4 separate regions of the Homo sapiens genome follow, and regions 1, 2 and 4 are each linked to region 3. The links come from fine-mapping of genetic effects on gene expression. A gene starts in region 3. Each other region holds a variant in brackets. All regions are shown on one strand. Distances are between the middles of the regions. Region 1 has its middle 4.9 kb from the start of MEN1. Region 2 overlaps MACROD1 (mono-ADP ribosylhydrolase 1). Region 3 holds the start of TRPT1 (tRNA phosphotransferase 1). Region 4 overlaps MACROD1 (mono-ADP ribosylhydrolase 1).

Region 1 (2,698 bases), 590 kb before region 3:
TCGGCCTCCCAAAGTGCTGGGATTACAGGCATGAGCCACTGCGCCTGCCCCAATAATTTTTATATTTATTACAAATTGAAATCGCATTTTCAGATATATTGGGTTAAACAAGATATAGGATTAAAATTAATTCCACCTCTGTCTTCTTTTATTTTTATTTTTATCTTTTTGAAGACAGGGTCTCACTCTGTTGCCCAGGCTTCAGTGCAGTGGCGTGATCATGGCTCACTGCATCACTGCAGCCTCCAGCTCCTGGGCTCAAGTGGTCCTCCAGTCTCAGCCTCCTGACCTGAGTAATCGGGACCACAGGTGTGAGCACTTGGCTAACTTTTGGGGTTGTTAGAGACAGGGTTTCACTATATTGCCCAGCCTGGTCTTGAACTCCAGGACTCAAACGATCCTCTTGCCTCAGCTTCCCAAAGTGCTGGGATTACAGGCATGAGCCACTGTGCCCGGCTTCTTACTTTTAAAAATGTAGCTACTTAAATTAGCTGGGCATGGTGGCACACACCTATAATCCCAGCTACTCAGGAGGCTGAGGCAGAATTGCTTGAACCCAGGAGGCGGAGGTTGTAGTGAGCCAAGATCGTGCCAATGCACTCCAGCCTGGGCGACAGAGTGAGACTGTGTCTCAAAAAAAAAAAAAAGTAGCTGCTAGAAATGCCAAAATCGTATTGTGGCTCATGTTATATTTCTGTTGAAAGCTCTGCTCTAGATCTTTTCTTTGCCAATAATGACAACCCCCTCCCCATAATTTCAATCTCAAGCATCCTACTCTCTCTTTTTTTTTTTTTTTTTTTGAGACAGAGTCTCGTTCTGTCACCCAGGCTGGAGTGCAGTGGAACGATCTCAGCTCACTGCAACCTCCGCCTCCCGGGTTCAAGCGATTCTCCTGCCTCAGCTTCCCGAGTAGCTGGGATTACAGGCGCCCACCACCACCCCCGGCTAATTTTTCAACCGCCTCAGTTAAGTGCTGGGATTACAGGTGTGAGCCACTGCCCCTGGCCAAGCATCCTACTCTCTAACCAACACCACTCTCTTTCCAGCCCACTCTAGCACCCCAACTCGAATTGACGGTTGACCCCACAGAAACCTGCAATCCATTGATATTACTACACATTTGCTGTCTGTCACCCTTCTCTTGTCCTTACATGCCTCCTCACACAGCCTACATTCCAGGTCAATCATTAATCATGACTGCTTTGGCCAGGTGCAATGGCTCATGCCTGTAATCCCAACACTTTGGGAGGCCGAGGCAGATGGATCACCTGAAGTCAGGAGTTTGAGACCACCCTGGCCAACATGGCAAAGCCCTGTCTCTACTAAAAATACAAAAATTAGCCGGGCATGGTGGCGGGCACCTGTAATTCCAGATACTCGGGAGGCTGAGGCAGGAGAATCACATGAATCCGGGAGGTGGAGGTTGCAGTGAGCTGAGATTGTGCCACTGCACTGCAGCCTGGGAGACAGAGGGAGACTCCATCTCAAAAAAAATAAAAATAAAAATAAAAAAACAATAGAAAAATAAAAACAAACAAAAACCCTACTGCTTTGCATGCATGC[G/A]TGTATTCTTTAGCAAATATTTGTTGAACACCTATTATGTGCCAGACACTATTCTAGGCCCAGGGGACACATCAGTGAACACGGCAGACACATTTCCTGTCCTGTAGAGCTTATCTTCTGGTGGTAGGGGACAAACAATAAATAAATCAGGCCAGGCATGGTGACTCATTCCTGTAATCCCAGCACTTCGGAGGCTGAAGTGGAAGGACCACCTTGAGCCCAGGAGGTCAAAGCTGCAGTGAGCCATGGTTGCACTACTGCACACCAGCCTGGGCAACAGAGCGAGACCTGTCTCAAAACAGAGAAACAAAGTGGTCATATCATATGTTAGAATAGTGGTTCTCAAGCTGGGGCTATTTTGGCATCCCAGGGGACATTTGGCAACATCTGGAGACATCTTTAGTTGTCCCCACTGCGGGAGCTGAACTGGTGGCATCCAGTGGGTAGAAACCACAGATGCTGCTCGTCATCCTACAATGCACAGGACAGCCCCAGTCACAGAATTACCCGACCTCAAGCGTCAACAGTGCCTCCTTCCAGAGCCCCTGTCTAGAAGGTGTTAATGCTAACAAAGCAAACAAACAAACAACAACAACAACAACAAAAAAAACGTAGAGCGGGCTGGCCGCGGTGGCTCATGCCTGTAATCCCAGCACTTAGGGAGGCTGAAGTGGGCGGATCACCTGAGGTCAGGAGTTTGAGACCAGCCTGGCCAACATGGCAAAACCCCATCTCTCCAAAAAAACACAAAAATTAGCCAGGTGTGGTGGCGTGCACCTGAAGTGCACCTGAAGAGGCCGAGGCAGGAGAATTGCTTGAACCTGGGAGGCAGAGGTTGCGGTGAGCCAAGGTCGAGCCACTGCACTCCAGCCTGTGTGACAGGGTGAGACTCCGTTTCAGAAAAACAAAACAAAAAGAAAAAAAATATATAAAGCAGGGTTGAGGGATGGATAGAGGAATTTCGAGTGGAGGGTGTGATTTGAAGTAGAATGGTCAGGTCTGTGTCAGCCTTTTTGAGGTGACGTTTGAGCAATATTGTGAAGGTGGGGAACCCGGTAGACATCTGGAGAGAAGATGGTAACCCACTGGGCTTCCTATTTCACTGAGAAAATCTAATTACCCACCACATATGCCC
Region 2 (2,698 bases), 130 kb after region 3:
TTGCTAAATGTCATTCAAAGGCTCCAACTGGGCCGCCATGGCCTGGGCTTCCAGAACAAGCACTGCCTTTCCCCACCATGGGAAGCAGGACCATCAGGGAACTGGGGAAGTTGGGTCTCCGTGTTTCTGGCCTCTGTCTGGTGCCCACCCCACTTCCTAGGTGGGGGGTCAGTCCTCAACACCCGCAGCCGCCCTCCTCTTCCACACAGACGGAGGGCAGGGCAGGCTGTTCTGGAATCCAAAACAAAACCCCGAGCCCTCCCCAGCACCTCTCATTAGTGCGGCATGTGGAAGGGCCGCGGCGCCCTGGTGTCTGTATTCCCCCTGCAGGAACCCCTCTTTGGAAAAGGGCTTTTATTACACATCTGAGAGTGCTCACTCTGGTTTGAAATCAGATCCAGATGGGCTCAGCTGCATCTGGGCACTTTTCTTTGTAGGGCCTAAGGTGGCTGATTTGAGAAATGCTTGTTGTCAGAGGCCGTTACAAATAAAAACAGGGATATTAGGGTTCATGTTTTAATAAGCCCAGCACCCAGATGGGGGGTGGCTGCCCACGGGGCTCACAGCCTGGCAGGGAAGGCATTTGGGAAGGGTGTGTGCCAGCCAGGTGGTGTGCAGGCTGAGTCTGATGGGGTGGACAGGGTGGCAGGGGGAGTTTTCTTGGGACAAGCTGCCCTAGGAAGAAGGAGGTTTCAGAGCCAGCAAGCCCCACGGGACATCGATTCTGAATGGCCAGTGCCTGGTGAATACTACAGGTGGGGCACAGGCCCTGGAAGGGGTACGGTGGGGCTTACGCAGGAGGGAAGATGAGGACAGAGTCCCTGCACGCGGCGGGAGGGCGGCCGGCTCTAGCACGAGCCCTTATTGCTATTACCACCCGCGTGATTTCATCCAATTATAAATTGTAATTTCTCCATGAAAGCGAGAGATGGAAAAAGTCCAGTGAGGTCATCCGCCTCCCTGGCCGGGGCGCAGAAATTGTTTTATACCGATGGGGGTGGGGCAGGGGCAGCGGGCCTTGGCATTTTGAGAGGATGATTGCCGTGTCCTGGGAGCCCAGAGGCTCCAGTCAGCTGTGGCCGCTGCCTCCCGATAAAGAGAGAAACCACTGAGCTCTGCTTTTGAAATTAAGAACCCAAAAAGGAGGCAGGTTCATCCCACTGGTGTGTTCACCTCAGACCCTTCCCATAGCTTCTCGGCTTTATCCTGAGAGCGTCCCATAGCTCTCAGGATAGAGGCAGTGCTCCTACAGTAGTCTCCAAGGGCCCTGCCCAGCCCACCAGCCGTGTCTCCCACTACTGCCCACTAATGCCCTGAGCTGGCTCCAGCCTGGCCCTTCACTGTACTGTTCCCCTTCTGTAAGAATCCATGCAGACGTCATCCCTCCCTCCCTGCAATGGGCCACCCTCTGCTTGGCTTGTGTGGTCCTGTGAACCATGACAGCAACAACGGAGCATGAAAAGAATT[G/T]TCTCCCTGGCTTCAAGGGAGGACCTGAGGCTGGATCCCCCAGCACCTGGCTCAGTGCCTTGCATGCAGTTGGTGCTTAATAAATGCACCCACCAAACTCTCCATCTGCTCCCTCATTTAGAAAACCAAGGCACTAAGTGAGGCTCTTGGTGCCCGTCCAGCTTTGTATGTCCTCAGTCCACCTTCCCTGCTGCAGCCCCCACCCCCACCTTCCCTGGGGCCTGCAGAGCCTCCTGGAACCCCAGTGCTGGGATACTGGGCTCCTCAGCGTCTGTGCCCTGGATAAGTGGGGCCTCTCAGGCTTCTGGGGTGTGTATTGGTTTTCCAAGTGAGTCTGGCTGGCAGTGGTTGGGAGGTGTGAGCTCTCCAGCAGCACTGTGGCTCTTCCCTTGTGTGGGCGCATAATGATGATCATTAGTAGCCACCTGCATTCACTGAACCAAAGGAGGCCCAAGAATAAATATGTAAATGCGTGCGCCTGGCAGACACCTCCCGCCAGAGCCACAGCACCCCCAGTGGCCACCCTTCTGGCTCGAGTGAGTGGAGACCATGCCGTGTGAAGTTAGTGGTTACACTCCTCGCCTTGGCCTCCCCCGTTCCCACAGGCTCCAGGTCTGGTCTCTGTGCTCAAAACCAATAAACCATTTTTTGAGTCAACATCATAAAAGCTTCCATTTTGAGTAAAAGTACTTTGAGATGCTTACACAATTTTCTACTTTTGTTGTCGTCAATCACATCACAACTGTATTAAAAGAAATTTGAAAGGAGGGAAAGAAAGCCAAGTGCCCAATCTCACATCTCTGCACCACCCTCTGCGTTTTGGCCGAATCTGCCCATACATATATGCCAGGGGACAATGCACCTTGTCCTTTCCCAGTAATTTCTGCCTTGCCATCTTCCCTGAGCTTGGGAAGACAGCATGGCTAGCAGGTCAGGGAGGACCACTTTCATTGTGTGGACTGAGAAGAGGGAGCAGGACTTGTGCAGGGTTATACAACCTGTAGCAGTGTCAGGGCCTCAAACTCCAGGCCAGTTTCCTTCTTGCTGCACTACTCCAAGACAGCGCAAGAGAAACGGACCATCCACCAAACACTGCACTGAGGGGTCCTGGGCTTCTCCTGAGGCTCTCTTGTGCACCCCTCCATCCATCCATCCCTCCATCCTTCCATCTCTCCCTCCATTTCTCGATCCCTCCATCTCACCATTTCTCTATTCATTCATCCATCCATCC
Region 3 (2,620 bases):
GGACCAGCAAGCCTATACCTGCTGGCCTTGAGGGTCTGATGTGGCACAGTGTAAGAGAGTTAGTGATCCTGAGTCTGGTGTCCTTTCCCTGACAGACAACCAGAGGTCCAGCTTCAAAGGAGATACACAGGGGGCAGGGGTGGAGTAGGGCATCTTCTTCCTGTGCCCAATCTTTCCTCCCGTGTTTTCTAGTTTCTCACAGGACTGGGGCAGGGGTCAGTGGGGAGGCAGGTGGACTGCCCTGAGCAAACTTCCAGAGAAATACCAGGCCAATTTTCCCTTTAAGGAATGAGGAAACCAAAGCTGGGAGGATTGGGAGGGTGGAGAGCTGCAGCTCCCTTGAGCTGTCTGGGTCTTTGTGCCCAGCCTGGAATCTCACCTGAGGCTCAGGGTGCCCACCAGGTACGTCCACCAGCCCAGGGGCCTCAGCCACCTGCCGGGAGCGGCGCAGGAAGACAAGGAAGTCATCGGCTGTGGCTAGTGCAGCGCCCACCCCCAGTGGGTCCGCCAGATAGGCCTGCGTGTCACCCCAGTCGGTGGCACCCTGCTGTCGCAGCCAGGCAGCTGAGCTGGACCAGTTGGTGCCCAGGAAGTCTCGGTAGGAAGTAAGGCCCAGGCGCAGGAGCAGCTGTGGCCCCCGAGAGCCAATAGGCGCCAGGGTGGCTGAGTGCAGGCGGAACTTGGGGGCGTCGAAGAGCCAGGGTTGGGCCTTTAGCCGGGTCTCCCAGATGGCAGTGATGGCCTCGTCCCCACCTGGCAGTGGGCGACGGTCATGGGCGGGGCTCAGCTCGGCCTGTATCTGCTCCTGGGGCAGGCCCCCGCCAGGGCACTGCAGCAGCAAGGTCACCTCAGGATCCATGGTCTGAACGGGGCAGCTCTGGGGGAGGATACGGCCAGGCCTGTCATCCAGGGGGGCCACTACCACTCCTGGGCTGCGCAGCTAGCCCCCTCTGTCGCAGACCTCCTGAGGGTATCCGCAGCGCTTCTCCACCCCCCTGACCACTCCTTGGGCAGTAAAACGTGCCATCTTCCCCGCAGGAGCCCCGAGTCCCGCAGGGTATCCAGGACGCCCGGGCATCCCTACCATCCAGAGGTCTTGGGTTCAGGCGCCCCAAATGCCCATGTCCCCCAAACCCAGGGGTCTGCCTCCGACCCGGGGCGCGCGGGGACCCCTTTCCAGGGCCCGGAAGCTCCAGCCTCCAGCGGGCGCTCACCAGCCGCCGGGTCCCTCAGGCTCCGCCCCTTCCCCGAAGCGGAAGTGCCCGCCCCCTTTCCACGCGGCTTTTCATTGGCGGGTCCGCCGCGGTCGAGGATCCTGGAGGTTTGTCCCCGCCGCCCCGACGCTTCCGCCCGGTCCGTCGGCACGTCGGCCCTGCCTCCCGGACCACCCTGCGGGGCGCACCAGCGATCTGGGGTGCGGGGCTCGGCCTCCCTGCGCTCCTGGCTGACCGTGTGACCTTGGGCAAGTCTGGCCTGCTGGGCCTTAGTTTCCCTCTCTGCAGCAGGGACTTGGGGGTGGTGAACTTAATGAGCCGTATACTCCCACCCAGCGCTCACTTCCTGAGGCTTTGTGACTTTCTGGGAGGGATGGGGACGTGGAAGGGGCCTTAAAGCAGTCCCCCCTCGTCACTGCCCCCCACAGGTCTTAACCATGAACTTCTCTGGAGGAGGGAGGCAGGAAGCAGCAGGGTCCAGGGGTAGAAGGGCTCCCAGACCCCGAGAACAGGTGCGCGCCTCCTCCCCACCCCCTCCCACCAGTCCAGGCTCCCTGGGAGTTGCTGGGGGGCGGAGCTGAAGGGTCCTACTATTCCTGGAGACCACTGGCACTCCTTTCTCTCTGGGCTCTCTCTGCAGTGGGTCATTGAGGGTTCAGGATGGGCAGTAGGGCAGGGTCACCATGGAGACTAGGGGCCACCGCTGGGTTCTTTCAGGACCGAGACGTGCAGCTGTCCAAGGCTCTGTCCTATGCCCTGCGCCATGGGGCCTTGAAGCTGGGGCTTCCCATGGGAGCTGGTAAGTAGGGGCCTTGGAGGCTGGGGCTTGAGCCCAGAGAGAAACGTGAGCCTGTCTGCGACTCCTCCCTGATGGCTGCCTCCACCGCTCCCTGAGGAAGGCACAGAGTGCACTTCCTCCCCATGCACAGAGGAGAGCAAGGCCTAGAGCCCCTGTCATGTCCACAGCAGACTGAGGAGAGTTCTTGTCTGGGCCAGGCCTGGTGACCGCCCCCTCCAGCCAAGCAGCCAGATCAGCACTTACCCCGAGGGCGAGCCCTGGAGGATACGGTGCAGCTGGTGGTGTGAGTGTGCACTCCGGGCCAGCGCTATGCTGGGCACTCACCTCCCTGCCCCTCCGTGAGGCAGATCCTCTTTTTATGTAAGTTGAAAAAACTGCGGCCCAGAAAGGGGAGACTTTCTAAAGGTCCCACAGAGGATGCCCAAGCGATCTCCAAGCCCAGACTTTGTTTCGGTTGCCTGTGGCTCCCTGTTAACCCTGGCCCAGTCCAGAGCAAGGTTAGCTCCTGAGCACCCTGCCTGCCCACAGATGGCTTCGTGCCCCTGGGCACCCTCCTGCAGTTGCCCCAGTTCCGCGGCTTCTCTGCTGAAGATGTGCAGCGCGTGGT
Region 4 (2,698 bases), 100 kb after region 3:
TGTTAAATTTAGCAGAGACTGCTATTGTTCTCATGGAAATTTTGTTCCTTCCTGTCCCCCTCCCTTTGGGATGTGAGAGAGGCAGATGAGGCTCCAGAGCTGTGAGTGTAATGGGTACATCTAGGGGATGGGGGGCGTCTGGGGTGGTGGCATAAGCTCATGTCCCCAAACACCCGGACAGTCCCACTTTTACCCCGGAGCCACTTGGTTGCTGGAGCCTCTTCCAGGATAACCCATAGCTCCTGCTGACACATACTTCTCCATGTAGAGACCCCTCGGAGTCTACGTTCAGCTCTGGTTCAGCTCTGGGTCCCCTTGTGGTGACTCAGGTGTCAGTAGACCTCTGGGGCCTGTGGGTGGGGACAGAGGGCCCTTCTTCCTGCAGCGGAATCATTTTGGTTGGGATGGTGCCGGAGGGAACAGTCTCCATCCTGCCGGGTCACCGCCTCCGAGCCAGGGCACCCCAAGAACAGAGCTGACCCTCGGGGGCAAGGCCCGGGGAGGGGTGGGCTGAGCCTCGGGGGCAAGGTCCGGGGAGGGGGTGGGCTGAGCCTCGGGGGCAAGGCCCGGGGAGGGGGTGGGCCGCTGAGACCACGTGTGCCCCGGACACCTGGCCCCTGGCCCGATGGGGTGCCAAGCCGAGAGTCAGCAGCAAGAGATGACCGTAAAAGTTAAATCTTTCTATTTATTTCAAGAAAGAACAAGGCAAGTGGACTTGGACATTTTCTATGAAAATAGACAAACAGAAAATAGGACCAAGTAGTTAATCACATTCATCTCAACATTGAAGTTTCAAGGCACCTACAAGAAGGAGGCCAAAGGGCGGTTCGCAGTGCACTTTGGTTTGTGTTGTTGTCGTGGTGGTGGGTGTTTGCGTGTCTCGGTTTTCTGGAAACCCTTGCCTGGTGGTGAGGTTGGGAGCGAAGCAGGTGGGCACGAGGCCAGGCTGGTCTGGGCCCTGAGAAGCCGGGCCGGGTCAGCCATCTGGTCGCATGGCAGCAGGCGGTAGCGGGGACGGTCAGGCCCGTCACTCAGGCCCCTGAGACGGCTTCCAAGAAAAAGAAAGGAGATAGTGCTGCACCTGGGCGGCTGATTCTGGAGGTGAGGAAGGCTGGGGGGCGTGGGAAGTGGGGGTACTGGCACAGGGGCCCCTTGGACATCAGGCAGGACCTCGGTCACAGGCTTGGGAGAGATCAGGCCTGCTCCC[T/C]CTGACCCGGGCGGTTAGCTGGCGGGCTTCCTGCCTTCTATAGAGCAGAAGGACCCACCCCTTGGCCGCCAGGGGCTGGCCAAGGACCCCTCCCTGGTCTCCTCCTCCTCTTCAGACCACCGGGAAGGGGATGACGTTGTGTGCCACTCCAGAATGCTTTACGACACCACATAAGATACAAATAACCTGTTAACATCCGGAAAGGGAATTACTGTTGGTGGCTCTTAAGACATTCCTCTGCCGTGTTTATAGGGGGTACGGGCTCTTTCAGATAACTTTCATCTTTGGCCTCCCTGTTCACACTTACCTCCTGGCTCCAGCCAGCAGAATCCCACAAGCACCTCTCTCTCTGGCTAGCCTATTTCGACGCCACACACCACTCCACCCTCCGTCACCTCTCTCCCCACTTCTCTCACTCTTGGATGACAAGCCCTGAGCGCTGGGCCGTGTGGCTTCCTCCCCATGGCTCTTGGCCTCTCCTTATGAGCTGGAAGGCACCAGGCAGGGTCCTCGGAACCCCCTGGCGGCTCACTTTGGGTACCCAGGTGGGCTGCTGGCGGTGTGGGGTGTGGAGGTGCGTTGTGTTGGGGAAAAACAGCCTAAGGCTAGTTTTGGGGTTTTGTGGGGGTGTCTTCTCACCTGCGTACTCAGAACTTTTGAAAATGGGACTAGCCCGAGGACAGGTGGGCTCAGAACATTGCAAGCCTGCGTTCCACACAAGAAAGGTGAGAGAGGCCTGGAGCCGCCTGGCTCCAGGGAGATGAACTGGTGGCGGCCCCGCATCCGCCATGGCTTTGATTGTCGGTTTGTGGTGCGTTTGTTTTTTCCCGTCTACAGAGGAAGCCCGATGAGTTCCTCCAGGTGGGTGGCTCCAGATGCAGGGATTCTGCGGGGGCAGCAGGCAAGGCAGCAGGTGTCGCCTGGGATCTGGATTTCTTGCAGCGCCTCTGTGGGGCCCTCCCCCAGTTCTCTCCCCCTTGTCATCCACTCAAGGCAAGTCTTGGAGAAGGGAAACTGAGTTACTGACACAGGTTGGGGCAGCCACCGGATCTCTCAGAGTGGCTACATTTCTCCATCTGGCTCACAGCTGGCAACACGTGGATCCAAGGCAGGGTGGAGCGAGGTGCTTCCAAGAGGTAAAGCTGCTGAGATGAGCCCCTCTCTGTGCCAGCTGCTGGCGGGGCAGGAGCAGGACGAGAGAAGCCTGTTTGTTGCCAACACTCGTGCCTGGGCCATCCTCAATGAGTGGGCAGATGGCAACTGGGGAGGAAGTGAGAGGAGGAGGCGGCCTCGTTCCGTTGGTGGCAGAGAAAGGATTGAGTACCCCTGTGTGCCAGGCACTGTGCTGGGCCCCAGTGACCCTGGGAAGGGCAAGGTGCTGACTCTGACTATCTACCTTGATGAGATTTAGGGCTGTGGCAGCAAAGACCTTCCTTTGAGGACTCTCTGGTCTTAGGCTTTGGGCTTTCAGGTGTGGGGAGGCAGGGGGGC

What was found.
Region 1: its variant is fine-mapped to the expression of TRPT1 in testis (GTEx, PIP 0.94).
Region 2: its variant is fine-mapped to the expression of TRPT1 in skeletal muscle (GTEx, PIP above 0.99).
Region 4: its variant is fine-mapped to the expression of TRPT1 in skeletal muscle (GTEx, PIP above 0.99).

The regions. Positions count from the first base shown.
Region 1 is chr11:64,814,103-64,816,800 of GRCh38, reverse strand. No RefSeq gene overlaps it. Among named protein-coding and RNA genes, the nearest start is that of MEN1, 4.9 kb to the right of the region's middle. RefSeq lists an enhancer at 1,916-2,025. The variant G/A (reference allele first, on the strand shown) is at 1,564.
Region 2 is chr11:64,099,835-64,102,532 of GRCh38, reverse strand. All of the region lies in intron 3 of MACROD1 (mono-ADP ribosylhydrolase 1), which reads left to right. All of the region lies in intron 1 of FLRT1 (fibronectin leucine rich transmembrane protein 1), which reads right to left. Among named protein-coding and RNA genes, the nearest start is that of MACROD1, 65 kb to the left of the region's middle. The variant G/T (reference allele first, on the strand shown) is at 1,468.
Region 3 is chr11:64,224,892-64,227,511 of GRCh38, reverse strand. TRPT1 (tRNA phosphotransferase 1) reads left to right here and starts at 1,326. Exons shown (of 8, transcript NM_001033678.4): 1 at 1,326-1,462; 2 at 1,643-1,726; 3 at 1,932-2,013; 4 at 2,542-2,620. The coding sequence starts at 1,652. NUDT22 (nudix hydrolase 22) reads right to left here and starts at 1,238. Exons shown (of 6, transcript NM_032344.4): 1 at 1,085-1,238; 2 at 380-877. The coding sequence starts at 859. RefSeq lists enhancers at 60-577, 578-1,097, 1,698-2,420, 2,603-2,620 and a silencer at 1,123-1,532.
Region 4 is chr11:64,125,257-64,127,954 of GRCh38, reverse strand. All of the region lies in intron 3 of MACROD1 (mono-ADP ribosylhydrolase 1), which reads left to right. Among named protein-coding and RNA genes, the nearest start is that of MACROD1, 40 kb to the left of the region's middle. The variant T/C (reference allele first, on the strand shown) is at 1,208.